Homo sapiens: one gene and its partners. The protein of the gene in region 1 purifies or fractionates together with the protein of each later gene. This does not show direct contact. Each region holds a gene or a part of one and is shown in the gene's direction. Other genes may lie near its edges.

Region 1 (4,030 bases):
GCCAGAAGGAGGTAGAGGGTGGGCTAGAGATGGGAACTCTAGGGAGGAGGCACATATACAAGTTCAGGCAGGCAGGAAGAGTACCTGGGGCTCTGCCAGAGGGAATGGAGAGGAAGGAGATGAACTGATCAAATATGGAGGCAGTCAAATAGGACATGGGAGGGGATTTAATGTGGGGAGACAGAGACAACAAAGAGTTAGAGGACTGAAGCCTTCCTTTCCCTCACTTTGGTCCTCAAAGCCCAGTCCCTAGAGTACGCAGCTCAAGGGCATGGAGGTTGGTGTGATGTTGAAGGCTGATGAAGATGAGAGTTTCTAATGAAGCAAGGCCCTAGGGATGGCAACTTCAGGGACACTGAGCTCTAATCACTAACCAGGCACTTGTCCAGTCCTGGTGGGTAGGATAAGAGGGTATGGAAGTACATTTACCTCCCTGCAGGATCTTGGAAGGAAAATGATTGGGACCAGAGTAATCAGTGGAGAAAAAGAACTAGACAAACTGTAATCAGGGAGTCTTGCTGCTACAGGAGGTCATAGGAGGAAGAGTCAAAGCATGTGGTGTTGGTTGGAAGTAGTTAAGGAGGGCTTCCTGCCCAATATGGTCTAAGGATGGAGAAACTTTGTGGGTAGAGAAACAGGAAGGGGAGGTGGCCTGAGGGCAGTTGGTGCCAGATTTGATGTTGAAGCCCTTGCCAAAGCCCTTGCTTACTTTTCCCTTCCCCCACAGGAAAGCGTCCCAAAAAGGGCCTGGCCACAGCAAAGCAGAGACTCGGCCGTATCCTGAAAATCCACAGAAATGGCAAACTACTTCTGTGAGCCCTCCTGTGTCCCACCCCTCACCCCTTTACCCCCATTGCCTTCTCCATTGTCAACTCTTGGGGCACTCCTGGATCCTATCTGCCCTGGACAAGGTGCTGAGGTGCATTGTCCTGCTTTCTTGGGACTTACCAAAGGCACGGACCCCTCCACCGACTCCTTCTAGTTCCCTTCCCCACTTTCACTAGAGCATCCTGCCTGCCTTCTCCACTGAGGAGCAGGTAAATGGGAGAGGTTTCCAGCTGACTAGAACCCTCTTTTCTACTCGTCCAAACCACTCCCGTCACCTGCCTTGTCTGTTCTTTATTCTTCATCCCCCGCTAGAGCTGGAAGGCAGGATGAGGAGAGGTATGAAGGAGCCTGAGCCATGAAGTGGGAAGCCCAGTGCTTGACACTTTCTGCAACTCTAGCCCTATATCCAGAAGCCTGCCCACCTCCACCCATTCTGTTTGCCCCATTTCCCCAGTCCAGTGGACATGCCCCACCTCCAGACTTGCTCATGGGAGAAGGCTGTGGTCTCTGCCCCCTCTTGCCAAATGCTTCATGGAAATGAAGAGGAAGGCCTAGAGCCTCCTTCCTGCCCCACTGTGGGCCATTTCCAGAAGTGGCCTAGAAATGCCAACTTCACTTACCTTTCAAAAGAAAGGTGATTCCTATCACTTGTCAAGGTAGGGAGAGGTCAGATGCCCAAGCCTTTGACCACGGTTTTGTAGCCTGTTGGAGGAAGCTACTTTTAGCTGGCTACACATGAGGCCACTTGTTTTAGGGTGAGCTCCAGGGATTTGCCTGGATTTTGAAATCATGTAGAACATTATCCACGTGGCTGTGGCTGTGGCTGTGGCTGGGCCCTGGCAGGTGGAAAACCATCTCCCAGAAACCTGAAAGCACCTGCCAATGACGCAGATAACCCTGGCCCTACAGCCTGCTTGCTCCGCCTATACCACAGAGCACAGCCTGGACATTATGGAGGGTGTGGCGGGACGGCCCACACCTGGGTCCTCCATCGGGAACTTTTCATGCTTCTTTCTCCACCTGAGGTCTTGGTCTGAAGAAGACCTCAGGACTCACATCTTCACTCCTGGGCCTTTGCACTTCCAGACGACAGGTCATCGTTCAAGCAGAATGCAGACAGGCCATTCACGAGCCCAAGTTGAAGAGAAGAGACGCCCATCCGTGAAGGAGCAGACCATCCATCCGATCCTCCCCTTCCCCTGTCCTTCCTTCGTGGATTGTCTCCATTGTCCAGACAGTGCCCCCACCTCCCACCGCCTTGCCTCACTGGCAATCTGGACTCGATGGAGAACATCCCCCCACCTCCATTTGGCACTACCCAAGTGGAGTGTACCCTTGCCCTTTCCACCTGTACCACCCACTCCAACCTCACCCCAGCTTGCCCAATGCTTCTGGGGAATTTAATAGCTACCATGCAGGCCACAGGGAATTTGTGAGGCTTCTTTTGTCATCTTTGTATCTCCAGTTTGTCTTTCTTTTCTCCATAGCCCTGCCTCTACTTTCCTTCCTTGGAATCAGGGGTTCCTTTAGCCCATTTGCTTTCTCTACCTTGGGGACCCCAGGGGCCAAGCAGTTCTCCATCTAGTCACACCAAAGGCAAAAAGCCTGGCTACCTCCCCCCTAGCACGTGAGTCCCTACTCCCCTCCCCTCTGTTTCTGCCCAGCTTTGCTTATTTTGGGGATTTCAAGGCAGCAGAGGGTAGTGAGGGGAGAGCAGGAGAAGCCTCTGTCCTGTATAGGCAACTGCCTGACTATGCGGTGACTGCTGTAACCAAGATCAGGTCCCCAGCCCTTTTGTCCATTAACACCCCTTCTTGATCTTTCAAAGGCAGCTAATTGCTAGCAAATCCCCCCGATTCCGGCCTTTTCCCTCTATTTCTTTGTTAGAAGTTTTCTGTGGAGCTGAAACCCAGCCTCTGTTTGACTGGGTTTCATTTAGCTTAGTTGGGTTCTTAGAGCCCCCTGTTTGTTGTTTTGTGTTGTTTCCAATGAAAAGCAAGTTTACCCTCAGAGTTATGCTTTTCCAAAGAGGCTGATGTCTTTGTTTTTGTTTTTTTTAATGTTTCAGGTTCTAAGTGAAGTGAGTTGGGGAGGGGTTGGGAGTGTTAGTAATCAAGGTTTAGAACACCATGAGATAGTTACCCCTGATCTCCAGTCCCTAGCTGGGGGCTGGACAGGGGGAAGGGAGAGAGGATTTCTATTCACCTTTAATATATTTTTACAAAAAAAGCAAACAATTTAAAAACAAGCCCACCGCTTCTGTACATGTCTAAATATATTTTTAGAAGTGGGTAGGATTGTGAATTTCTGATGCAGGGCCTTTTTATAAATAGGTTAGGGTAGCATCATTCAGACTTCTCTGTTGTTTTTGTCCCTGTCTTTTTCTTATGTTGTGTTACTAATGTAATTTATATTTTTTTTAGATCCTCCCTTTCCTATAGAGATAAAAGTGATTTATCTTGGCAATTGCTTTGCTTGGCATTCTTTTTTTTTGTGATGAGGGTGGTGGTGTGGTGCAGGGTCTGGGAGTGCTGCCTTCTCCTTGTACTCTTTGTCTCTCCCTCAGCAAGTTGTCAGGCATTTCCCTGGTGCTCAGCCTTATGCTTGAAGTGGGAAGGGTATTCCCACCCTCAGGAGGGACACGCTTCACACACCTGAAGTAGATCATCAGAAGCAGACTGAGCAGAAAAGAAAGGGTGCAATAATTCAAAGGGGCCTAACAAGTTCAATGGGAGGGCTTTCCAGAGACTGCTTTTTCAAGTGTGTCCTCTTTCTGTGAATGTGGGATTTTTTTTTTCTTTCCCTCTCTCTTCCATGCACTTGTTGTGCAATCTGGACTTGATTACTGTGCTTAGGGCCAGTACATGGGTTAGAAGAATATAATTATCAGAGCTTGTTTTCACGATTATCGCACTTGTTTTCTTGTGCCAGGCACTGCTCTTAATACTTTATTGATTCATTTCATCCTCACCAACACCCTCATCCTGCCAGCGAAGAAACAAAGTAACCTTCCTGTATCATACATGAAAATTCTGGGACCAACCTGGTTCCAGAATGTGTATTCTTACCACTCTGTTCTACCACTTCTCACTGATAAACACTACCATTATATTAAGTGCCTTTTGGGTGCCAGGCATTGGGCTAGGGATTTTACTTAGGGATATCTCATTTAATCCTCACTGAAAAACCCCATGAGGATATT
Region 2 (4,596 bases), on another chromosome or scaffold:
AGTGAGCTGTGATCGCTCCACTGCACTCCAGCCTGGGTGACAGATCTTATCTCCGAAAAAAGAAAAAACAAAATGTTCCAAAATGAACTGACGCAATGGTTGCATCACTGTGAATATATTGAAACCCACTGGATTGCACACTTCAGGTGGGTGAATTGTATAATACGTAAATTATATCTCATTTAAGCTGTTGCTATCGAACCGAGTTTGTTCTTCCTCTGTGCAGCAAGCCAATCAATGTAATGACAGATTTTGCAGAAGAGGAAGAGTTCGTTCATGAGGCAATTAAGCGACGAGGTGGTAAAACAGGTCTCAAATTCTCCTCCCCAAAAATAGGGTTTGAGGGTGCTTATGGGATAGAAAACGGGGTGATCTAAAGTACGGAGAAAGGTGACTGGCAGGTAGGGAAGGTGAGGTAATCAGAATTTCTGAGCAAGCATGGTTGAGCTACATGGCTTTAGATAGGACATTTGTGCAAAAAATAGCATTTAGCATGATCTGAAGGTGGAGTTTACGGCCCTCTGATATCAGCTACCCACATAGGTGCAGTTGAAGGGTCAGTGATCTCCACTGGCTTAAACTAAACAAGAGCTGCCTCCTACCTAGTTCCTGAAAAACAACTTTAAGCACCCATTACTATAGTGTCCCACAGACAAAAATGTTATCTGTAAGGAAGCCAGTGGGAGTTTAGTTATGCATTATTTGGCTACGTGACTTGCTAGTGGCGCTTTTAAGATCAACTATAAGTAAGCAATTAAAAGTAAGTAAGCAATTAAACGCAAGGCAGATTAAGTCTGGAGGGCTTAATCAGGTTCGCCTTTGGTTTCACTATTAACATAAGAAATAAAATGAAACAAAATGGCTGAAAAATAATAAGAGGAGGAGGAAGAGAGGAATCATCATGATGCATCAGTTAAGGCAACTGGGCTGGAACATTTTAGGGGTTGTTTGTTTGTTTTTATATTTAAGACAGAGTCTTGCTCTGTCACCCAGGCTGGAGTGCAGAGGCACAATCTTAGCTCGCTGCAGCCTCAAACTCCTAGGCTCAAGCCAGCCTCCTACCTCAGCCTCCTGAGTAGCTAGGACTATAGGTATATGCCATCATTTTTATTATTATTATTATTTTAGTGACAGGGTCTCACTATGCCCCGGCTGGTCTCAAACTCCTCACCTCAAGCGATCCTCCTGCCTTGGCCTCCCAAAGCGCTGGGACTACAGACGTGACCCACCACACCTCACCCCTTATAGGGTTGAATGCCAACTGTGCCAATTGCTGACCTTGGGCAGTCATTTCACCTCTATGAGCCTCAGTTTCTCCATCTGCAAAATGGGAGCAAAAATACTGATCTGTCTAGACTCTTGAAGACTCGATGAGATAATAACTAAGTGAAGTCGGTGTTATCTACACAGTGGAAGGTGAGATGAATAAACTAGGCATAATGATGATGGTAATAACCAGATGGGCTGGCTATGGGATGGGGGTTGGGAGAGGTTGTGGCTGGGCTGGCACAGACATCTGACTCATTTAGACTCTCTGCCTAGGCCACCTTTGCCAGAGGGAGTCCCCTCAGCCTTGCGATCACTCATCCCATTGGCGTTGGCTCCATTTCCACACCACAGCTGTGTGCCAAGGGTGTGTCATGAGGTTTCTTGAGTGACAGAAAACTCACCGACAATAAAGGGCCAGGTGATTGTGCCACCCGATTCATAGACCAGGCTTCTCAGGAGAAACCCCGGGAGATTCCACACTGTCAGCCCCTTCTCCAAGATCAGTACGTGGGCCTGACTCCTCCTCGGTGCCCAGCTCAGTATTGGCAACTAGGAGAGTAGTGAGATTGAACTTGGCCTTGAGGAACAGCTGCCTCTAGAGTTGGTAAGTGATTTGGTGGATATTAGCCTCTCTCTCTCTCTCTCTCTCTCTCTCTCACACACACACACACACACACACACACACACACACGCACATACACACATACGCTCCCTCTCCCTTCATGAATTAATGCTCTGGCCAGTTTTGGCAGAATGGAAGAAATTTCCATCCATCCCCTCTTTCTTTTCATCTGTTCATTTTTTTCTTATTTGTTTACTCAGCAAATTCTCTCCAACACCACCTCTGTGCTCCCTGCCACACTGTTGGCCATGATGGAGACAGAGATAATGAAGTCAGGCTTTCAGTCCTGAAAACTGAGCTGCCAGTTCAGCCATGAGAGTAAGAATCAAAAACACTGCTGTAATTCAAGTAGGAGCAAGCAGAGCTGTGAGAGTCCAGAGAAGGAAGAGGAAAGTTCCAGGAGGTCAAGAGGGATCCTAAAACCTACCTGGGTCACCATTGCTGTTAAGCACCTAGAGCTCTCCCCAGGTCCTTTGCGGATGGGAAAATCGAGTCTCAGAGAGGAGAGTGAGATGCCGAAGGTCACACAGCTGGGAAGGGACTGAGGCAGGATTCGGTTCTGGCTCCAGGGCTATGCTCCTTCCACTTCCTCCCTCACAATCTTTGGCTCCTCTTTCGTCACAGCACTTGCTGTGTGTGTGTGTGAGTGTGTGTGTGTGAGAGAGAGAGAGAGAGAGAGAGATTTAATATTCATTTCTGTCACAGACTAGAGCTACAGAAGGACAGAAAGTCAGGGAGCATGTCTGTCTTACTTAATGGATTCTAAGTGCATAACACATAATAGATACCCAGAAAATATTTGCTGGGTAGGTGGGTGGGTGGGTGGATGGATTGATGGATGGATGGATGGATGGGTGGGTGGGTAGATGGATAAGTAAATAGGTGGATGGATAGATGGAAGATAGAGATGATGGATGAAGGAATGGATAGAAGGAGGGCTAGATGGAGGGATAGTTGGAAGATAGAATAGATGGAGGGATGGAAGACAGAGAGAGATAATGGATGAATGGATGGATGGATGGATGAATGAATGAGTGGTTGGATGAATAAGTGGATGGATAGATAGATGGATGGGTAGATAAATGGGTTGATGGAAGAATGAATGGGTATATGGGATGACTGATTAATAGATGGGTAGACAGACGGATGAATAGATGTGTGAGTGGGTGGATGGATGGATGGATGAGTGGATAGATAGGTAAGTGGAAAGATAAATTGGTGGATGGGTTGATGAATAAAAGGATGGATGTTAAATTGGATTGATGGATGACTAGATAGATGTGCGGGTGGAAGGATGGGTGGATGGGATGACTGATTAATAGATAAGTAGATGGACAGATGAATAGATGGAAGGGTGAGTGGGTGAATGGATGGATAGATGATGAATTAATGGATAGATGGTAGATGGATAGATGAATGAATTGATGGGTGACTGGATAGATAGATGGATAAAAACATAGATGAATGGATGGTTGATGGGGGAAGGCATAGCAGATATTATGCCACCAAAATTGTCAGAGAAGGATCTAGATAGAAAAAAAAAAAGCATTCCCGGTGGGGTGCAGTGGCTCACATCTATAATCCCAGCACTTTGGGAGGCTGAGGTGGGCAGATCATGAGGTCAGGAGATCAAGACCATCCTGGCTAACACAGTGAAATCCCGTCTCTACTAAAAATACAATAAAATTAGCCAGGCATGGTGGCGCATACCTGTAGTCCCAGCTACTCGGGAGGCTGAGGCAGGATCATCACTTGAACCCAGGAGGCAGAGGTTGCAGTGAGCCGAGATCATGCCACTGCACCCCAGACAGCCTGGGTGACAGAGTGAGATTCTGTCTCAAAAAAAAAAAAAAAAAAAGCAAAAAGCATTCCCTACTGAGGAGAAAGTGTAGGAAAAGGCAAAGAGATGGGGAAATGCCAAGAGTATGACAAAAGTCTGTCTGTGCAGCCAGAGAAGAGAACAGGACTCAGAGATGAGAATGGAGAATGTGGACAGACATTCAGACTCAAGGAAGAGCAAGGGAGGTGGATTGACCCCTTCGTATTGGAGACCCAGTGAGATAATATCAAAGTTGCATTCCCCACTTCGATGACATTCTCCTTTTAAACACTCCTCCAAGGCATCTCTTTGAGATGGCTTCCCCAGCCCGTCATCTCCTAGGTAGAAGAGGCAAACACATGGGTCACTTGCCCTGCTCCTCATTCCAGGGCTTTCAGGGGAAGTTCAGTCCACCAGAAGCTGGTGAATGACCCACGGGAGACACAGGAAGTTTTTGGGGGCGGAGTGGGGGACATTGTGGGGTAGGCTCAGCAGTTCTGAAGAAGACATCCAGAAATGGAAGACATCGTGAAATTGTCATTCTAGGGGTGATATATTACTACTTCATGGATTATCATCTATTGCCCAGATCTGTCCACAGACCAAATCCCCACCACTTGAGTGCTATTTGGTCTCAAAAATCCAGATACATAAGCCAGTTTGTCCCCTGAGCCCCTCGGCCTCCCTTTAGAGAACTTTAACCTATCTTCTCTTGACTCCAAGGATCAGACAAGGGTGCTGAGAGCCGGGACTCACAACCAAAGGAGAAATGAGCAATCCGCGGTCTTTGGAAGAGGTAGGCTGGGTGCAGGTTGAGGGGAGGGTGATCATCTGGGGAGAAGGAAGGTGAGGATTTTAATGTTTTGGAAAGAGTGGAGGGACTGAA
Region 3 (4,030 bases), on another chromosome or scaffold:
GTATATGTGAGGATAATCTATTAGAATGTCTTTCAAAGTCAGCAATGTATCCAAAATCATACACATAGTGATACTATTTCTTGGGGGTTTTTTTCCTGCGATGAGATAAGGAATTAGAGTTGGCACTCCATAACTCAGCGTTCTGCTTACAGAGGATATGCACTTATCTGCTAAGTCATAGGATATTGGAGAGTAATTTTTATAGTTTCAGAAAATGGTATGCCGAATTTTAATACTTTATTTAAGCTAAGCAAGTCTGGATTTTCCTAGTTAGTTAGCATTGACTGGAACAACATTTCTTAAAGATAAGGCACTCTTAGACACCCTCATTGAGAACAATTTCCAGGATAACAGGGGCTATCACTATAATTATTGCTATCAAGGTATTTTGTAAGCAAAAGGTATTGAAACAGAGGATTGGATTGTCTCTGTAATCTTTGCAGCTCCTGACTGTCAAAAGACATGGCACAATATGTCATCAAAAAATGCATTTATGAGCTACGTTTTCTTTTTCTTGAGACTAGTCTCACTGTCGCCCAGGCTGGAGTGCAGTGGTGTCATCACAGCTCACTGCAGCCTCCACCTCCCGGTCTCAAGGGATCCTCCCACCTTAGCCTTCTGAGTAGCTGGGACTACAGGTGCATGCCACCACACCCTGCTAGTTTATTTTTTTGTAGAGACAGGGTTTCTCATTGTTTCTCAGGCTGGTCTTGAACTCCTGGGCTCAAGTGATCCACCTGCCTCGGCCTCGCAAAGTGCTGGGATTACAGGAGTGAGCCACTGTGCCCAGCCAAACGACGTTTTTAAAGCTATCTCCTTTTAGGAATTTATTAAATGCTCATTGAAATTTGGTACTACTCAGAGCTGTCTTGTGAATCCATATAGTAGTATAAATTTTACTGGAAAAATTGTAATCTTGAAGATACCCTTTTTGTATGTATGATTTAGTAGAAAACACTAGATCAGGAATTTAAACTTAGGTCCTAGACTTCATTTTGCCACAATTGCTTTCTAAATCTAACAACATGGACAGATCATTTAATCATTCTGAATTTGTTTTTTATGTATAAATTAAGGATTTTAGTTATTACTTTGTCTGGTCCCAGTAGGTCCTTATGGGAGTCGTGTTTAGTAATGATGTAAGCGAGTGCTTGTAGTAGTGCTTCAAAGTATATTAGAGTAGGCATCTTGATACTACTACTACAGAATCCATGTAATAGTGTAACATGGTGGGTGTGTAAGCTTATGAACCTTATGTCCATATTTCTTTGTTAAGCTCAACTACCCAAGTGTGTGTTAGAAGAAATAGCCAAATAAGATTCACTAGAGATGGTAGAATGCTATCTAAAAGTCCTGACTTCTGATGTTACGTAAAGTTTCCTACAATTTAAAATGCTATAATTGTTTAATACAGGACAAAATCTATTATGTAATGAGAAATTTGTTTCATCTTGCATAATTGAATTTTTTTTTTAATACAATTTTGAGTTATTCTTTTTTTGTGATTTCTCTTTCAGGAAAGATCGTCCTACTTGGAGTACCAAAAAGTAATGAGAGAAATAGAACATTTGAGTCGTTTATATATTGCTTATCAGTTTTTGCTGGCTGAAGATACCAAAGTACGCTCAGCTGAGGAATTAAAAGAAATGCAAGATAAAGTTATAAAGCTTCAGGAAGAATTGTCTGAGAATGATAAAAAAATAAAAGCACTTAATCATGAAATAGAAGAATTGGAAAAAAGAAAAGATAAGGTCTGAACATATGTATAAGAATCGATAATATACTCTGTGAAAAACGTACTAAATTATATATAGTAACTATTTAGGATTCATTGGGCATTGTCTTCCGTATTGATTTGTTAATCTTATAGTAAGATAATGAAATAACTTATAAAAAAGTGTTTGATACAGAACTCATACAATAAAATGACAGCGTGAACAAATTTTACATAAGTGATTGAATTGACTGCATTTTGTTATAGGAAACTGGAGGTATACTTCGATCTTTAGAAGATGCTCTTGCAGAGGCTCAGCGAGTTAATACTAAATCTCAAAGCGCATTTGATCTCAAGAAGAAAAATCTGGCATGTGAGGAAAGCAAACGCAAAGAGCTGGAAAAAAATATGGTTGAGGTAAGTGAGCTTAATGTGCCACTAGTGCCACTTGTAGACAAGTATATAGTCTCATTAGTGTACATTTATCTATTCCATGAATATTTAGTGAGTGTCTTCTATAAGCTAAGTACAGTTGTTTGGGCTGTGGTTACAACTGGACCAAATGGTCAAAAATCCTTGCCTTGTGGACCTTCATTCCATTGGGGGAAATGATAATAAAGAAAATAAATAAAACATGTAACATGTTATAGAGTGATAACTGATGTGGAGAAAAAGCAGGGAAGGGGATTAGGAGTGTAGGGGAAAAAGAGTACAATTTGGGATTTTAAGTTGGATAGCCACTGAAGTAAGTGGAGAATAGGAAGAACGGGTTTGATAAGCTTAAGAAATACAGTATGAATATAATAGGCTTGAGGAGCCTGTTAGACATCTTGAGTAGTGATGTTGATTAGGTACTTAACTATATGAATATTGAATCCAGGCAAAAATACAGATTTGGAGGCATCATCAATGTATAGGTGTTATTTAAATCCATGAGACTAGATAAAATGATCAAGGCTGTAAGTTCATATAAGAAGGTTGGAGCCCTGGGATACTTTCAACGTTTGAATGTTAGGATAGTTCAACATTCAAAAGAGATTGAGTAGTGTGAGGAAAATTAGGCCAGTAAATTGTCCTGGAGTCCAGGTAAAAAAGATGTTTCAAGGAGAAGTGGCCATGAGTACCTGATTAGATTGTGTTCATACTCTCACAGAATGAAGGCAGAAAAAAGAAAAGTGAATATAGATAACTTTTTGAGAAGTTTTCTGAAAGAGGGATAAATAGGGAGGTAACTGGAGGGTAATACAGAAGAGAGTTTTTGGCTTGATTTGACATGGGATAAATAAATTCTATATTGACAGAAAAGATCCAGTAGAAAAGTCGTCATTTGTGATTCAGGAGAGAGAGATGGGAGAGTTGTTAAAATAGGGCCCCTTAGTAGCTGCAAGTAGGATAGGAACTAGTGTATAGAGGAGGTCGCCTTCGCGAGAACTAGGAATAGGTCATCCATGGTAACAGAAGAGTCAAGTATATAGTCTCACATGTAGGTAGATGAGTAGGTGTGTTTTTGGAGCTTATGGCATTTCTTTTGAGGGTGATTCTGTTGTCCCAGTGAAGGTATACATTTGCCTTTTCACTGAAAAAAAATTAACTTTGTGAAAATAATTTCTTTATACTGCCCTGTTAGATATTTTTGCAGAGAAATACATTGTTGAATTAAGAAACAGTGGAGGAAAATTTAGACAAAATTTTGAAGCGATATGAACGTGTTGTAGCAGTCTGTGTTGTGGCATCCAAGAACTGAAATCAATTCATCAATTACTTTTTTTTTTTAGGTGAGGTTTGTAAAGCTCTAAACATGTGGACCTGCCTTGTTTTGGGTTCATTTTTCTTTAGTCTTGTCATGTCCTTAAGCTTCACACACTGATTGCTCCTTTTTCATCCTTCTTTTCTGTATCCCCTTATTCTTCTAGATCTCTTAATGTTAGTATGCCCTAAGGCTAGCACTCTGATATCTTTTATAAACTCTCACGCCATAGGTGGTCTCATCCAGCTCTGTAACTCTAAATATCATCTATATGTTGATGCCCTCCAAATCTATAAGCAGGCTTAACTCCCTAAACTCTATGAAGCAGGTTTATTGTGTGCAGATTACCAACTTGTCTGAAGCCAGCAGACATAACACATTCATACACAACATTTTATGTGAAATGGATTTATTACTTATTGATAGGCAACAAGGGAAAACAGAAGTCTAGGATTCATTGCAAGCTGATCTCCCAAGGCTCAGAAAAGCTGCCTAGGGTGGTTTGAATTTTATTTGCACGTGCTCAACTTGCACAGCAGCTGAGGGACCCCAGAAAACAGCCTGCTCTG
Region 4 (4,030 bases), on another chromosome or scaffold:
TAGAAAAGGCCAAAAAAAGCTGTGGTCATAGATCTTACTAGATTATAAACTTACTGAGAAATGAGACTGAAAAAAAAATCACTGAATTTCATAATACTTAGCGTGGCATTTTTCTAAAAGTAATTTCTCATTGATTACTTGCTAAAGTAACTAAATTAGCAAGCTGGCATTTAGCTCATTTAAACCCCATTCTGGTACAAATTCACCCCTTAAGTTTTTCTCATGGTAGCATCATTATTGCAGCTTTACACATAGAAATGTTACTAGTTTGGGCACATGGATTTATGTAGTTTAAGGAACTCTCTAGCTCCTCACTTTACTTATGTATTTATGTATGTATTTAAGAAATCACAAGGGCCGGGCATGGTGGCTCATGCCTGTAATCCCAGCACTTATGGGAGGCCAAGGTGGGTGGATGACCTGAGGTCAGGAGTTCGAGACCAGCCTGACCAACATGGTGAAACCCCGTCTCTACTAAAAATAAAAAATCAGCCAGGTGTGGTGGCGCATGCCTATAATCCCAGCTACTTGGGAGGCTGAGGCAGAATTGTTTGAACCTGGGCGGCAGAGGTTGCGGTGAGCTGAGATTGCGCCATTGCACTCCAAACTGGGCAACAAGAGCGAAACGCTGTCTAAAAAAAAAGAAGAAGAAAGAAATCACAAAATATTTGGTTAATTTTAAGGAACATGTAGGAAAATCAGGTGTTAACAAATAACCAGCATTAATTCTCTAATCTGGATTTTATTCTATCATTTGGAGAAGGAATAAAATAGAGAGGGGTGGTTAGGCTTTGAGTATATCCATGTGTCTATAGATTTATCACCGACATTTTTTCTAATAGCTAATGAATTCAGTGAGCAAAGCTGGTTGCTATTTCATGCATTCACACAAGTCAGATCTGCTTTTACATCTTTTTGAAGGAAGTGTTTAACTGACAGGGCAATGACGTGAAGCTGGAAAACACACTCGAGAGATTCTGGCTATTCCTCTCAGTGAGAAACTGAAAAATGTTCCAAGTATTCCTGGCAACTTAATTTTTTTTGAGACAGGGTCTCACTTTGTCACCCAGGCTGGAGTACAGTGGCACAATCTCGGCTCACTGCAGCTTTGACTTCCCAGGCTCTAAGCAATCCTCCTGCCTCAGCCCCACAGGTAGCTGAGATTACACCTGGCTAATTTTTGTATTTTTTGTATAAACAGGATTTTGCCATATTGCTCAGGCTGGTCTTGAACCCCTGAACTCAAGCAGTCCACCCATCCCAGCCTCCCAAAAGGCTGGGATTACAAGCGCGAGCCACTGCACCCAGCCAGGAACTTAATTTTTTTTTAAGTGCTTTCTAACTCTGCCAGGCTGCAGAAGTTAAATAATAAGACATGCCCAATAGCATCTGGCATCCTCTTAGTGCTTTTAATTTTTTTGTCTACTGCTGGTAGTGTCTTTTCAAGTGTGAAGTTATTTGCTGTTTTTTGCAGTGAATTTATAGACAGATGGACTCTTCTCCATCTCTACATTTAATGAACAGAAATGTATTATCTATTCTTAACTCCTACTTAAGGATGAAATCATTTACTTTAAAAAAATACAACTCCTGTTTAAATGGAGTATTTAGTTACTTTTATTTTTTCCTCTCTTTACACTATTTCAAATCTTACGAGTTCTATTTTAAATTAAAAGTCACATTTTAATAATTTACAGATTAAATTCTATCGCATGAGACATCATTACAAATCTTGTAAGAAGTATCAGGATGAATATGGTGTTTCTTCTATCATTCCAAACTTTCAGATCTCTCAAGATTCAGTAGGGAACAGGTAAGCAATACTTATTCCTAAATACAGAATTTTCATAATTGAAATGGAAATTGTTTTGGGAACTATATGATAAGGTATTTGGGGGGATGTGTGTGTGTGTATGTGCACATGTGTTTTTAAAGTGAATTGCCAAGTATCAGAACTACAGCATTTGCCTTAAAATCTGTTTGGCACACGTAAGCTCTCATCTGGGAGATGACTTCATGAACTTCAGCTTATGTTATTTAAAATCATTCTAAGAATTTTCATTTTTTTGAGTAAAAAATAAGTTGGAGATTTTTCTCTTACTGATTTTGCAACTGAAATGATTTGAAAAACTATAGAAAATCCTTTTCAGTAATGTATTTGCAAACTACAACCTGTTTTTTCTTTGCTATCTAAGGGATAGACTTAGAGTTTGAAATTTTTATTCTAAAATGTCATGTAAAAATGAAACCAGGTGCAGTGCAGTTCTGTTTGAGTCTCATTTCTTTTAAACAACTAGATTTGGATTGATTTGTATCTTATCTCAGATTCATGTACATTAAACATTTTTATGAAATGTATTTTACACAGAAAAATGGCCAAAATGCACTTGTGGTTTAAAAAAATAATGATTAACATCCAGTTACCTATTAACCCAGGTCAAGAAAGAACATTTTTCAAAACTTCAGGATCTCTATGTGAGCTCCTGCCCATTTGAACCGTACACTCCTAGATGCAACCACTATTCTCTTATTTGGATTATTCATTCCTTTGATTTTCTTTATGTATCATCACCCATGCATGTATCCCTAAACAATGCATTGTTAATTTTGAAAACTTCAGTAGTAAGCACATACGTAACTGTAAGGAAAGACAATATTGCCACTATTATAGAAAGGTTCCCAGGAGACAGTATGTTAAGCAGTCTCTAATATTTTATTTTAGTAGCCTTTCATTTTACATATTGCTAATTTTTAGTAACTTAACCGCCCTTAAGCACTTCATGTTGATCATACTACATTAGGCGTCTTCCCTACTCAGTTGAAATTTCTGGTAAAAACCTTTAGTGATTGTCTGGTAAAGATCTGCAGTAATTTTCTGATTGCCTAGTCTGAAAAAACTTCAGGTTCTCATTTTACTTGACTTGTTAGTGTCAAGGAAATTTGTTTGAAAGTTGTTGCTCTTATAGTTTTTTTTTAGTCCTTCTGGGTTTCTTCATTTCTATGTTTTTCTTATTGTTGTACTTCTACTTTATTGTAATTTCCTATCTGCTTTTTTACCCAATAGATTGTTCTTAAGTGAGGGGATGGTGTTTGTCTTGTTGAGCATATCTCCAGCTTTTAGTAAAGTTCTTAGTATACATGATTGTAATCACGCTTTTAATGACCAAATTTTCTTATCAGGAGACAGGCCTTCCTCCCCCTTATTTCTTAGATCCACTTGGTCATAGACACTTGATTCCTAATAGCAATATTCCTCATCTGTACTTTTATTTTATCTTGTCACTTCCCTAGCTCAGGCCCTCATCATCTCTCACTCGAACTATGATAATAGCCTTTTTAGCTGGTAGTTATCCTCTAATCTGTTTTACATTCTATCGCCAAAGTAATATTAATGAAGTATAAAAGACAAAATTCTGGCTGGGCGCGGTGGCTCACACCTGTAATCCCAGCATTTTGGGAGGCCAAGGTGGGCAGATCACTTGAGGTCAGGAGTTCAAGACCAGCCTGGCCATCATGGTGAAACCTTGTCTCTACTAAAAATACAAAAATTAGCTGGACGTGGTGGCGCGTGCCTATAGTCCCAGCTACTTGGGAGGCTTAGGCAGGAGAATCACTTGACCCTAGGAAACGGAGGTTGCAGTGAGCCGAGAGCACATCACTGCACTCTAGCCTGGGCGACAGAGTCAGACTCCGTCTAAAACACACACACACGCACACACACGCACGCACGCACACACACACTTCCTTATTCCAAAGCCCTTTCTGATCTGGCCCTTTCCTCTCTTTTTATAGCCTCTTTCTTGGTTATCCATCGTTGCATCACATGCCTTAGCCATGTTGATTTATTTGTTCCCTCTCTTTGCCATTCTTGAAAAACAGTATGACTGTGGTTAAAAATGTGGGCTTGGAGCCGGAATGCTGGGTTCAAATTTCAGATGTCACTTACTAATTGTATTACATTGTCAAGAAACTGCCTCAGTTGTCTCATGTGTTTAAGGAAAGGTATGAGAGGCGATGATGATGATAGGTC
Region 5 (4,030 bases), on another chromosome or scaffold:
TATTTTAATGTAAATCTCATCCTATCCTTTCAACCAAAATTTCTGCAATAGTGACTAATACATGCCCTTTTTTTTGAAACATCATTATACGTAACAGTTGACAGCAGCTCTTAAGTGTCATCTAATATCCTATTTCATGTACAGATTTATCAGATTGACCCAGAATGTCTTTTTATAGTTTTTTTGCTTTGTTTTGTTTTACAGTGGTTTGTTCAAACATGGATTCAGATAAGGTCCACACATTTTAGTCTGTAATAGTTTCTTCTCACCCTCTCTCACCTTTGTTTTCCTTCTATGTCATTTATTTGTTGAAGAAACTGGATCATTTTTCCTGTTGTGGAATTCCATATTCTGGGTTTGGCTGATTATATGTTTCTCTGTCTCTCTTACTTTCCATGAACTGGTGGTTAGACATAAAGACTTTCAGAACTGATTGGTAAGATATACATTTATTTCCATTGGATTGGAAGTCATAATATCTGATTATCCCCTTTTTTTTTTTTGGTCATGTTGAGATTGATTATAGTAGTTCAGCTGTTGTAAGTCTATTCCACCCATAAAGTTCCTCAGCAAACTTTAACCTAATGGTTTTAATAGTCATTGATGATGTTTAAATCCATTTCATTAAATGCTGCAAAATGGTGATATTCTAATTTTTTAAATTCTAACTTCTGCATTCGTTAGCTGGAGTTTTTTCTACAAAGAGGGACTTTGCCATATCAGCTATTTGCTTCAATTGTAATATGTAATGAAAAGGCAGGATTAGGTGCTTGTTTACTCATTTGCAGAATAATAACATTCCTTGAAAGTGACCAGTGGGGTTTTAGGGTTTTTGTTTTGTTTGCTTTCTTTTCATTTTGTTTTATTATGAGATCATGGTTTTTGTTGTGGTTGTTGTTATTGTTGTTGTTTTGTATTGGTTATATTTTAGTCCACTCAGTCCACTAATATCACTTAGTTTTTATTACGGAAAAATTTCAAACACTCTCAAGTAGACAGAGTTGCACCATACAGTGAAACCTCTTATGTTCATTCTCTAACGTCAACAGTGATCTTAACATTCAACCAATCTTATCTTCATCTATACCTGTACTCCAGCCCCACTTTCTTCTGCCCTTATTTTAGTTTGATGCATATCCAATCAGTGTTCAAATTTAAAATGGTCTAAAATATTTTAAAAATCAGATTGCTTGAATCAAAATTCAGATCTACCACTTAGTACAGTTTATATTGTGATATGTCCTTGAGTATAATCTATGGACACCCCCTCAACTCTTGCAATTTATTTAAGTAAGTTGAAACATTTAGTCACTAGAGATTTCCACGTACTAGATTTTGCTGATTTCATTTATTTGGTATAGTTTAATGTATTTTCTGTAAATTGGTAGAGTCAAAAAGAAATAGAGCGTGGGCCTAGTTGGAAAGACAGATTTCATTCAGTACTATTGCAATAGGGGAAAATAGAACCAAGTTCCATTTCAGAATACAACAAAGACACTTGGGGATGAAGCAGAGTGAGAGGGTCAATGGATGGAAACTTTCTAAAAGGAGACATCAAAGGTAGAAGGTTTCTTTCTGACCTGACTTAGGATTCCTGCTAAAGGCAGGCCAAGGTGATCATAGATCCAGAGTGGGAGATAGTTTAGGAGGATTCTTACTATATATAACTGAGCTAAACAGACTGATGACGGGGCTCAAGGACAAATACTAGTTGATTGCTCAGAGCAGCCTGCTTAAAAGTATGGTCAAGGAGAGAATCTTTAGTGTAGAATGGTGATCAGATTTAAGTTTGTTGTCCTTTGGTTCTTGTTTTCTTTCTGAAAAGCAAGACCTGCTTCAAAGGTGGTGGTGTGCTCTCTTGCACTAGGAGGTATATTATGTCTTGTATTCAGGCTATTTGCATTTCAGATTACACAGTTTTATGTAACTGCTTTAACTTTGTGTTTGTACTGAATATTAGTTTCTTGATGGCAGAGAACATATTTCACTTTCAGAATGTTTTTCTGCTTACATGGATTTATTTTCAAGAAATTTCATACAATACTTTATTTAGAAGAAAGCAGAATTTTCTGAAATCACAGTATGCAGAGGCATTTACCATCAACTCTGACAAACATCCTTCTGGTCCCTTTTCTATGCATGTATTCTGTGGAATTGGATGCAAACACATATTAAAAATATATACATTTGCCTAATGGAACCACAGCATACAGAGTATTTTATAGTCTGCTTTTCCATTCAGTGATATTCCAGGAAAATATTTTCTTATCAGTGTGTTTAGATACACATCCTTTCAATAGGTCATCATTTAAATTTCTACTGTCTAACATTATTTTAAAAGTAAGTTTTTCTCTAATAATCAGCACCACATTAAACATACTGTGTAGCTTTCACTTTAAAATTATTTTTATGGACATTTGATATCATTAGCTTGACATTATTAATAACAGTTACCTTGACTTTTTGATATCATCTGTACTGTCTTGGAAAGTGAAAATATTTGTCAAACTGTTAAATGATAAGAAAGAATAATTATACACTGCCAAGCAGAATTTCCTTCTTTTGCTCCCTCCCCACCTTCTGCTCCAATCACATAAATAAGAGCTGTTTTTTCTTTGCAGTATGCATTGCCTCAGGAACAAAGGTGGCTCTGTTTAATCGACTACGATCCCAGACAGTTAGTACCAGATACTTGCATGTAGAAGGAGGTAATTTTCATGCCAGTTCACAGCAGTGGGGAGCCTTTTTTATTCATCTCTGTGAGTATAAAAGTGTGCATTTAATGTTTTTAGTGTGAAATTGTTAAAATCTTTTGATGAGATACATGGATATATTAAGTTTTGTCATTTGCCTAATCATAAAATAAATTTAAAAAGATGACAATTTGATTTATTTTTCCACCTACTGCAGTGGATGATGATGAATCAGAAGGAGAAGAATTCACAGTCCGAGATGGCTACATCCATTATGGACAAACAGTCAAACTTGTGTGCTCAGTTACTGGCATGGCACTCCCAAGATTGGTATGGCTCTACTTTTGCTTTAGTGATAATGTGAAGTAAAAATTAATTTCTTAAACAGGAAAATCACAACATTCAAATGGAAAAACACACCTCAGTTTTATGCTTTTTAATTTTAAAAGGTATGTTAGTAATCAGTGCTGTTTATAATTGACAGTTATGCTCTACCTTATTTCAGAAATGCTTTAAGGTAATAGCCAGTTTTTACAAGTACATTCTTAATGATTTTTTCTTAAATGATTTCCAATATATTTTGGTGGCAATTTCCTTTTTGGCTGTTTATCTGAAGATGTTCAGTAGAGGGCACTATAAATTACATTTCTTTTCTTTACTAATGCGGATAAACCGTATTCATTTTTTTGTGGTACCTGCCATATCCCAATGTAGGACCAAGTTTGCAAACAGAAGACATTCTTATTTCTTTTGAAATATAAGCGTAATTTTTGTTAGCTTACTCTCTCACAAGAAGATAGATTTATTAAAACTGAAATAAAATTGGTATTTCTAACTGGGAGCAGGGCATAGGATTTAGGGCTTTTGTTCAATAGAAGACATTGAAACTCGGCCACGCATGGTGACTCACACCTGCAATCCCAGCACTTCAACAGGTGAAGGCAGGAGAAGGAGAAGTGACTAGCCCTGGCATCACTTGAGCTCAGGAGTTCGAGACTAGTCCTGGCAACATGGTCAGACCGTCTTTACCACTGACCCCGCCCCCCCAAAAAAAAAATTAGCCAGGCATGGTGGTGCACACCTGTAGTCTCAAGCTTAAGTGGGAGGATCACTTGAGCTCGGGAGGTCAAGGCTGCAATGAGCGGTGATCGTACCACTGGACTTTAGCCTGGGCAACAGAATGAGATCCTATCTCAACAACCACAGAAAAGGAGATCTTGAAATTGTAAAAACTACTTTTGTTAGTAAAATGAAAACAAAAGTCCTCTATAGTGCCACCACCCTCCCAATTTTCCCTCTCCTTTTCTCAAACAATATAATTTACTTATATTCAAGAT
Region 6 (4,030 bases), on another chromosome or scaffold:
TTGATCTGGTTACAAGGAATTTTTCTACAGTCAATTTTTTTTTTCATTTCTATTCCGTAAAAGCAGTAAGATGAGATGCCCAGTCTTCATGTGTATTGGGCTGTTCGTCTAATAATAATTACCCTGTGGTTAGGGTGCCTTTTCTGTTTCAGATCTCTGTTCACTTACACCCAGTCCCACATTGTCCTGTTTAGAGTCCCTACAGGTCCTGGAACCTTGGAAAGGGAGGAGATGGAGAGAGGTGGGTGGTGCTTCCCATTTTCCTCCTGATTCAGAGGGCCTGGTTTCTGAGGGTTCATCCCCTGTGCGTGGGCCTCGGACTGCAGTTTCATAGGCATAGCCCCTTGCCAAAGGCTACCTAGGAGCCCTTTGTGTCTTCATGATGAGCCTTTGCCCTTGAGAGAAGTGTAGGCTGCTACGTCTCGGAAGTCAGCTCCTGCTTCATCATTTTTAGTTTTATTGTGCCTTAAGTGGAAATGACAGTGTTGTAGAATTTAACTTCAGAATTTGTTCACTGCATTTTCTAGAAAATCCCAGGCTGGGCTGGTTCTTCTCCAGTGTGGACCAGAATGAAACAAATTCTCAGATCCTGAATTCATCAGGATCTTGGGGCTGCTGAGCTCCTTTGGGATTGGAGCTTGTGTGGTTTTAAGAAAGCTGTTTCCACACTTCTGGGGAGGTGCCTGTTTGTAGGCACGGTGTTTTTCCTGTCCTTGAGGTTCCCTAACTTGGGAAGCTCAGGGCTTTGGGAGTGGGGAGTCCAAAGATGAACTGGCCTTGGTGCTGCCCAGTGACTCTTGGCCTTCTTTTGCTGCCTGGGCTAGCCTCAGAGGGAATGGCCCAGTCTGGGGGTGCTTTGCCTGGATTTGATAGAACATCTAGGCAGTTGCCCTCCTTTCCTTCCTGACATGCCAGCAGAAGAGAAATGCCTGGAGATATAAGGCTTGCTTCTTTTCTCTCTGTTTTTAAACCCTCCTCCCCTCCTCAATTCAGGAGCTGGTTTTCCATCCATCCCAGTCGGCAAGAGCCCCATGGTGGAGCAGGCTGTGCAGACTGGTTCTGCTGACAACCTGAATGCTAAAAAGCTGTTACCTGGCAAGGGCACCACAGGGACGCAGCTCAACGGTCGTCAGGCCCAGCCGAGCAGCAAGACGGCCAGCGGTACTTGAACACATCATTTCCTGGAGTTTGCTTGATGTTCTAAAAGTGGCACACTACTTCCTGGGCTATTTTTTTTTTTTTAATTAAAAAAATACTACTCCCCCATCCTAAGCCCCATGTGCTTTTGCAGGGCAGGCCTGTGCAGCAGCCTCCTGCGGTGCCGCCCTGGCCGCGTGCCCCATGGTGGTGGGGCCTGCTTCCACAGCTGGGTTCTGGCTTCCGGCTGCTATAGGAGCTTTGCCTTACTCTTCCCTTTTGCGCCGTAGATGTAGTCCAGCCGGCAGCTGTGCAAGCTCAAGGGCAGGTGAATGACGAGAACAGAAGACCTCAGAGGAGGCGATCAGGTAACACCTGTTGCCACTTGATTTCTGGGGACCACGAGTGATCAGGCTGAGCTCTGCTTGCCCTCCTGCCTGCTTCTCTGGTTGACGGTTTCAGGGGTGCTGGTGTGAAGTCGCTGCTTGTGTGCTCTGTTCCTTCTGTGGCCTTGGGGGTGTGCCTGGAAATTCCTTGTGAGGTGTTTGAGATCACTGGGTTGGTGACCTACTTCAGCCAGGGCTGTCCTTTGTCCTCACAGGAAACAGGCGAACAAGGAATCGCTCCAGAGGGCAAAACCGTCCAACTAACGTTAAGGAAAACACAATCAAATTTGAGGGTGACTTTGATTTCGAGAGTGCAAATGCCCAGTTCAACCGAGAGGAGCTTGACAAAGAATTTAAGAAGAAACTGAATTTTAAAGGTTTGGCTCATTATATGAAAATTATTCTCTGCACAGGAGTACCCCTAGAGAGTGTTAGGAGGAGATGCCTGGCCGGGTGTGGTGGTTCACGCCTGTAATCTCAGCACTTTGGGAGGCTGAGGTGGGTGGATCACCTGAGGTCAGGAGTTCAACACCAGCCTGGCCAACACAATGAAACCCCATCTGTACTAAAAATCCAAAAATTAGCCAGGCGTGGTGGTGGGCGCCTGTAATCCCAGCTACTCGGGAGACTGAGACAGGAGAATCGTTTGAACCCAGGAGGTGGAGGTTGCAGTGGGAGTGAGCCAAGATTGCGCCACTGCACTCCAGCCGGGCGATAGAGCAAGACTCTGTCTCAAGGAAAAGGAAGAGATGCCTAGAGGAACCGGGGATGCCAGGCGGATGGTGACCGGCAGTGAGGAATTAATGAAGTGAGGTGCTGGGAGGTGTGAAAATGGGTGGGATAAGGTGCAGACTGCACAGCCCAGACGGCAGAACGAGACCTGTACTTAGAAGGTAGAAGAAGAGATTTCTGCTTTGCACAAGGCATAGTTGATGTCTTAGCTTGAGGGTGGCTTCCGAGTGAGCCCGGAGGGACCACCCTGCTAAAAGGCTGTGCGCTCTGCCCCTCCTCCATCTCCACGTGTTCTGCTTCTTTTTGTAGATGACAAGGCTGAGAAGGGGGAAGAGAAGGACCTGGCTGTGGTGACCCAGAGTGCCGAAGCGCCCGCTGAGGAAGACCTTCTGGGGCCCAACTGCTACTATGACAAATCCAAGTCGTTCTTCGACAACATCTCTTCTGAACTCAAGACCAGGTGAGAGGCTGAATGAATGAGGGGAGGACAGTCCTCCAATCTAGAAAGGACAGGGCTGAGGGCTCTCAACCTGAGGGCAGAGCTGGACTCTGAGGCTCAGGGTAGCTGTTCTAGGGTCCTGCTTGCGTTTCTGCATGATGGGTGCCGGAGTCCCAGCAGGTTGCGTGTGGGAAGCCTCTTGGGGATCCCGACCCGAGGAGTTGGCTGAGGTCGAGCCTGTTTCCTCTTGGCTTTGCTGCCCTGTCCCCACAAAGGCTGGGCTGCACCGCCCCCCCCGGCAGACCCGTGTCCACATTCAGCATACCTCACGGTGCTCTGCTTGCTGGTCCCGCTGGCCTGGCAGCCTGAGGTCCTTGCTTAGCAGCCTGAGGTATGGCTAGAACGTGCTCACACTGGCTTTCCTTCACTTCATTGTTTGAGGCCAGGGACCATGTGGTGTGTTTTATTTTTCACACCTAACAGCTGGTCAGAAGTCCCGCGAAGCACCCTAGGGAGTGGGTGGCATCTACAGTGTGGGCCTGGCTTGGAAACTTGGGCCCATTTGTCCTGCAGATTGAGCGCCAGACATGCCGCGGGGCGTTGAGGGGGCCTCAGAAGGCAGGCTGGAGAGCGCCACCTCTTCAGGTTCATGTTCTGCCAGGGGAAAAATAGAACAGCATGTCGTGAAGGCCAGGCAGTGAGGGCGATGGGATGGGGCTGTAACTCGATGGGAAGTGGATGATCAGTTCTCACAGGCAGAGCAGGCTGCGCAGATGAGTGCGGGAAGTGCTTCCAGACAGGCCGAGTCTGGGGGATGGGTTCCTGTAGGGTTTTGTAGGGCATGGCAGTGACTTTGGCTTTTGTTCCAAGTGCCGCGGGAAGCCATCAGAGGGTTTTGTGCTGAAGCGTGGTGCGGTCTGATGTTTTACGGCGTCCTTGGTGAGAGTGGTTGGACGGTGGGCAAGTGTGGCTGCTGACTGGCCAGTTAGGGGCCAGTGCTGCAGCACAGGTGGCTTGGAACCAGGCAGTGGTGGTGACAGAGGGAAGGAGTAGAGTCTAAATGTGTCTTGAAGGTGGCGCTAACAGAATTGGCCAACATGACAAGAGAAGAGTCCAGAATGACTCCTAAGTCTTTTGGCCTGGGCGGCTGATGGGTGGAGTTGCTGTTTCTTTGAACACGGAAGTCTGTGGGAGCAGCAGGTTTCCGGCTGAAGAGGAGCTCAGGGTGGGTGTGCTGCTGGAGCTGTTGTCTGCGTCGGTAGGAGTGCTGGGTGGGAGTGCTGGGTGCACAGTTGGATGTGGGAGATAGTCTCCCACCAGCAGCTTGTTTGGGTGG
Region 7 (4,030 bases), on another chromosome or scaffold:
AATCTTAATTCTTGTTTTGTGATTACGAGTGTTAGTGTCAGTAATCTTTGGGCTAAAGAACACCCTTATCTTTTAATCAGATATTTTAGTATCCAAAGTCACATCTGCTTTTGTTTTGTTCTTTTATTTCGTTTTACAGATTTGAACCTTCTGAAAACCTATGTTTAATACTGGACTTAGTAGGAACATATTCATACTTTATTTTTTGAAAGCATTATATATGACAGTTGTAATTATGACAGGCTGATATTAACTGTTTTCTTATCTAACCTCTTAGAAGCTGCAGTTCATCATCTGCTGTGATAGTTCCACAACCAGAGGATCCAGACAGAGCCAATACTTCAGAAAGACAAAAAACGGGGCAGGTGCCTAAGAAAGACAATTCTCGAGGAGTGAAGCGCAGTGCTAGTCCAGACTACAACAGGACCAATTCTCCTAGCTCTGCAAAAAAACCAAAAGCACTTCAGCATACTGAATCTCCCTCAGAAACAAATAAGCCACATAGTAAGTCAAAGAAGAGACATTTAGACCAGGAGCAACAACTGAAATCTGCACAATCACCATCAACAAGCAAGGCTCATACCAGGAAGAGTGGGGCCACTGGCGGTTCACGGAGTCAGAAAAGAAAAAGGACAGAGAGTTCTTGTGTAAAGAGTGGCTCCGGGTCTGAATCAACTGGTGCAGAAGAGAGATCTGCGAAACCTACCAAGCTGGCTTCAAAATCAGCCACCTCAGCCAAAGCTGGGTGTAGCACCATCACTGATTCTTCTTCTGCTGCCTCTACTTCCTCCTCGTCTTCTGCTGTAGCCTCGGCCTCCTCCACTGTACCACCAGGTGCCAGAGTGAAACAAGGAAAAGATCAGAACAAGGCCAGGCGTTCCCGTTCAGCGTCCAGTCCCAGCCCCAGAAGAAGTAGCAGGGAAAAGGAACAGAGTAAAACTGGTGGCTCTTCAAAATTTGATTGGGCTGCTCGTTTCAGCCCTAAAGTTAGCCTTCCTAAAACAAAACTGTCTCTTCCAGGGTCTTCTAAGTCAGAGACATCAAAACCTGGACCTTCTGGATTACAGGCCAAATTAGCAAGTAAGTTTACAAAAAGGTATTTTTCTTTAATTAAAGAAAGTTTCTCTTGGTTTGTCAAAAGCAATTATGCTTTAAAGTTAAGGGTTTTTTCCCCCCAGTCTTAGATAATCTTAGATGTATTACTGTCTGTGTAATTAAGTACATAACAGCATGTAGTAAGTGCTACTACATTTAGTTTTGTTGAGACAGGTAAGGAATACTACCTTCCTATTATTACGAAACCATCACATTTTAGTGTCTGTGTCTTTATTGGTCCTCGCGGCATCTCCTACTTCACTGATTTCCTAATATCAGGATGGGACATAAAGTTGGATTTTCTTCTATACCACATACAAAATTATCATTTAGTTAGGAGTTCTTTTTAGTTATGAGTTGCCATGATCAGAGATCAAATATATATATGTTTTTTTAGATGGAGTCTCACTCTGTCGCCTAGGCTGGAGTGCAGTGGCGCAGTCTCGGCTCACTGCAACCTCCGCCTCCTGGGCTTAAGCAATCCTCTTGCCTTGGCCTCCAGAGTAACTGGGATTACAAGTGTGCACACCATGCCTGGGTAATTTTTGTGTTTTTAGTAGAGATGGGGTTTCACTGTGTTGGCCACGTTGGTCTCAAACTTCTGACCTCAAGTGATCTGCTCACCTCGGCCTCCCAAAGTGTGGGGATTACAGGTGTGAGCTACCATGCCTGGCCAAATATATTTTTTTATATGAGATATTCTTGATGTGTAGATACAGTGAATTAAGTTATTACTATAAATATACCTCAATGTAAATTAAACTTTTTCATATGTAATATCTCACAGTCTTTTAAGGAGTTTTGTCTAAAGATGAATACTACTTATGTTTCACTACTCTTATATACACTACTCTGTGTCCTAAGTGAGTAAGAATATTGCTCTCTAAAAGTTTACAGTGGAGTAGAAAGAATTTGTGTTTTGAGAATACATTCAAGCAAAGAAACAGAAAGTAGATGGAAGAAACATAGCGTTATGTGCATTCCTTCATGAGTCAGTTTTGGAGATATCCAGGAACTCTTCTCCCTCTCTCTTTACCAAAAGACTTCTTCAGGGAACCAGCTGCTCATCTGGGGAATGCTAGTGTCTTTCTTTTCTTTCCTCCCTTCTTTTTTTTTTTTGAGACAGAGTCTCACTCTGTTGCCCAGGATGGAGTAGTGGTGTGAGTGGTACGATCTTGGCTCACTGCAACCTCCACCTCCTGGGTTCAAGCAATTCTCCTGTCTCAGCCTCTCCTGAGTAGCTGAGATTACAAGTGTGCGCCATCACACCCAGCTAATTTTTGTATTTTTAGTAGAGAGGGAGTTTCACCATGTTGGTCAGGCTGGTCTTGAACTGGGACAAGTGATCCACCTGTCCCAGCCTCCCAAAGTGTTGGGATTATAAGTGTGAGCCACTGTGCCCAGGCTTCTTTCCTTATTTCTATTTCAGAAACCTATAAAGGACAAATAGGATAATAAAGCACTTATCTCTACAATTTTTAAAAGCATTTTAATTTTATAATACCTAATTAGGAAGCTTGCTTTTAAGCATCTTTTCTTCTCTGATGGATTTTAGATCTACATTTGGGTAGGGCTATAATGTTTTCTTGGTTTAAAAAGATTGTATATAGTGTCTACTAGCATTCTTGTCAAAGTATAGCTCATATTGAATCAGCCTAACTTAAAATTGAATCAGAACTATTAGCTCTGTTTAATTTAACACTGCAGTCTAAAACTACTTTTGGTTGATTCACATATTACCTGAAATGACAATACTATTAATAGTAGGTACTATATAAAAAATTTTATGTTTAACCTGTATGATAGGTTATTGTGAAGTAACATATTTTACTTTTAGATTGAACTTTGTTCTGTTTTGGTATTTTAAATATGCAGAACATCTGTATAAAATGTTTTAAGTTTAAAGGATTAAGATAGGCTAGATCAGTATCTTGAAGTGAGAAGGAAAAAAAGGTCCAAGTTAAAAGGACAACCAACTATTTGTCCTTCCAATGCTTTATTGATAATTGGAGTTACATATGTCAGCTTTTATGCTGCCTTTCCTCCCTGTGTTTTGTGTCTGTCAGTCCTGCTATGTAATATTCACAGCCAGTGAGCCAGGTTGAGTTTACAGCAAGCTGCTTAGGATTCACTTCCCCTTCTGCCTTCCAGTCTGCCTCACTTGAAGAACTCATCTCTTATGTGTAGGAGGGTTCTAGGGCCAGGCAATAGCAGATTGTACTTGAGTGTCATGGCCTTGGTCCTTTGTAGAGATCAGCTTTCTTTTCTTTATATAGTCTGTTAACTTGATTTTTAAAAGAAAACCCAACTCTACCAGTGGCTAATCAGTGGGATTTTCTCCTTGGTGTTTCAATCAGGAAACACCAAGAGTTTTGGCAGTGTCATTTTGCTGCTGGTTTGATAAAACCAATCCAGATAATTCCATTAAGCCTGCTCAGCACATAGTCACAAACTAATTTAGTATTTTAAAACTCATTTCACCATTATTTCATTCACTTGCACAGTATCTGTGTTCTGTTGTCACTATTAAATCACTTTTCCGTTTTCACTGCCACTATCCCAGTTCTGATCTCTCATCGTAGCCTAAGCTGTTGAAACAAGAGAATGGAACCAGCGTTTGTGTAGCATAAAATAAGTACCAGGTATTTTACATATGCAGTTACATATTCTTTTAAAAAAAATGGTGCTTTAGGATACACTTTTTTTTTTTTTTTTCTGAGACAGAGTCTTGCTGTATTACCCAGGCTGGAGTGTGTGTAGTGGCGCAGTTGGCTCACCGCAACCTCTACCTCCCAGGTTCGGGCAATTCTCGTGCCTCAGCCTCCCAAGTAGCTGGGATTACAGGCGCATGCCACCATGCTTGGCTAATTTTTGTATTTAAGAGACAGGGTTTCGCCATATTGACCAGGCTGGTCTCGAACTCCCGACTTCAGGT

Evidence for each region.
Region 2: the proteins of PHF8 (region 1) and CASP14 purify together in Homo sapiens (affinity purification with mass spectrometry; one large-scale study listed by BioGRID and IntAct). This does not show direct contact.
Region 3: the proteins of PHF8 (region 1) and SMC2 purify together in Homo sapiens (affinity purification with mass spectrometry, with the first as the bait; one study listed by BioGRID). This does not show direct contact.
Region 4: the proteins of PHF8 (region 1) and RNF138 purify together in Homo sapiens (affinity purification with mass spectrometry; one large-scale study listed by BioGRID and IntAct). This does not show direct contact.
Region 5: the proteins of PHF8 (region 1) and RBPJ purify together in Homo sapiens (affinity purification with western blotting; one large-scale study listed by BioGRID and IntAct). This does not show direct contact.
Region 6: the proteins of PHF8 (region 1) and LSM14B purify together in Homo sapiens (affinity purification with mass spectrometry; one large-scale study listed by BioGRID and IntAct). This does not show direct contact.
Region 7: the proteins of PHF8 (region 1) and TRIP12 purify together in Homo sapiens (affinity purification with mass spectrometry; one large-scale study listed by BioGRID and IntAct). This does not show direct contact.

Annotation. Positions count from the first base shown.
Region 1 is NC_000023.11:53,935,944-53,939,973, reverse strand, and holds the end of PHF8 (histone lysine demethylase PHF8), read left to right. Parts: intron 1-727; coding exon 728-816; 3' UTR 817-1,914; coding exon of another isoform or gene 1,915-1,993; 3' UTR 1,994-3,294; downstream 3,295-4,030. UniProt on the Homo sapiens protein: Histone lysine demethylase with selectivity for the di- and monomethyl states that plays a key role cell cycle progression, rDNA transcription and brain development.
Region 2 is NC_000019.10:15,047,773-15,052,368, forward strand, and holds the start of CASP14 (caspase-14 precursor), read left to right. Parts: upstream 1-1,707; 5' UTR 1,708-1,873; intron 1,874-4,433; 5' UTR 4,434-4,479; coding exon 4,480-4,506; intron 4,507-4,596. UniProt on the Homo sapiens protein: Non-apoptotic caspase involved in epidermal differentiation. Is the predominant caspase in epidermal stratum corneum. Seems to play a role in keratinocyte differentiation and is required for cornification.
Region 3 is NC_000009.12:104,100,443-104,104,472, forward strand, and holds part of SMC2 (structural maintenance of chromosomes protein 2), read left to right. Parts: intron 1-1,517; coding exon 1,518-1,751; intron 1,752-1,981; coding exon 1,982-2,131; intron 2,132-4,030. UniProt on the Homo sapiens protein: Central component of the condensin complex, a complex required for conversion of interphase chromatin into mitotic-like condense chromosomes.
Region 4 is NC_000018.10:32,112,048-32,116,077, forward strand, and holds part of RNF138 (E3 ubiquitin-protein ligase RNF138), read left to right. Parts: intron 1-1,697; coding exon 1,698-1,813; intron 1,814-4,030. UniProt on the Homo sapiens protein: E3 ubiquitin-protein ligase involved in DNA damage response by promoting DNA resection and homologous recombination.
Region 5 is NC_000004.12:26,421,721-26,425,750, forward strand, and holds part of RBPJ (recombining binding protein suppressor of hairless), read left to right. Parts: intron 1-2,621; coding exon 2,622-2,759; intron 2,760-2,910; coding exon 2,911-3,023; intron 3,024-4,030. UniProt on the Homo sapiens protein: Transcriptional regulator that plays a central role in Notch signaling, a signaling pathway involved in cell-cell communication that regulates a broad spectrum of cell-fate determinations.
Region 6 is NC_000020.11:62,128,792-62,132,821, forward strand, and holds part of LSM14B (protein LSM14 homolog B), read left to right. Parts: intron 1-133; coding exon of another isoform or gene 134-241; intron 242-993; coding exon 994-1,161; intron 1,162-1,427; coding exon 1,428-1,505; intron 1,506-1,738; coding exon 1,739-1,900; intron 1,901-2,564; coding exon 2,565-2,715; intron 2,716-3,564; exon of another isoform or gene 3,565-4,030. UniProt on the Homo sapiens protein: mRNA-binding protein essential for female fertility, oocyte meiotic maturation and the assembly of MARDO (mitochondria-associated ribonucleoprotein domain), a membraneless compartment that stores maternal mRNAs in oocytes.
Region 7 is NC_000002.12:229,855,822-229,859,851, reverse strand, and holds part of TRIP12 (E3 ubiquitin-protein ligase TRIP12), read left to right. Parts: intron 1-277; coding exon 278-1,080; intron 1,081-4,030. UniProt on the Homo sapiens protein: E3 ubiquitin-protein ligase involved in ubiquitin fusion degradation (UFD) pathway and regulation of DNA repair.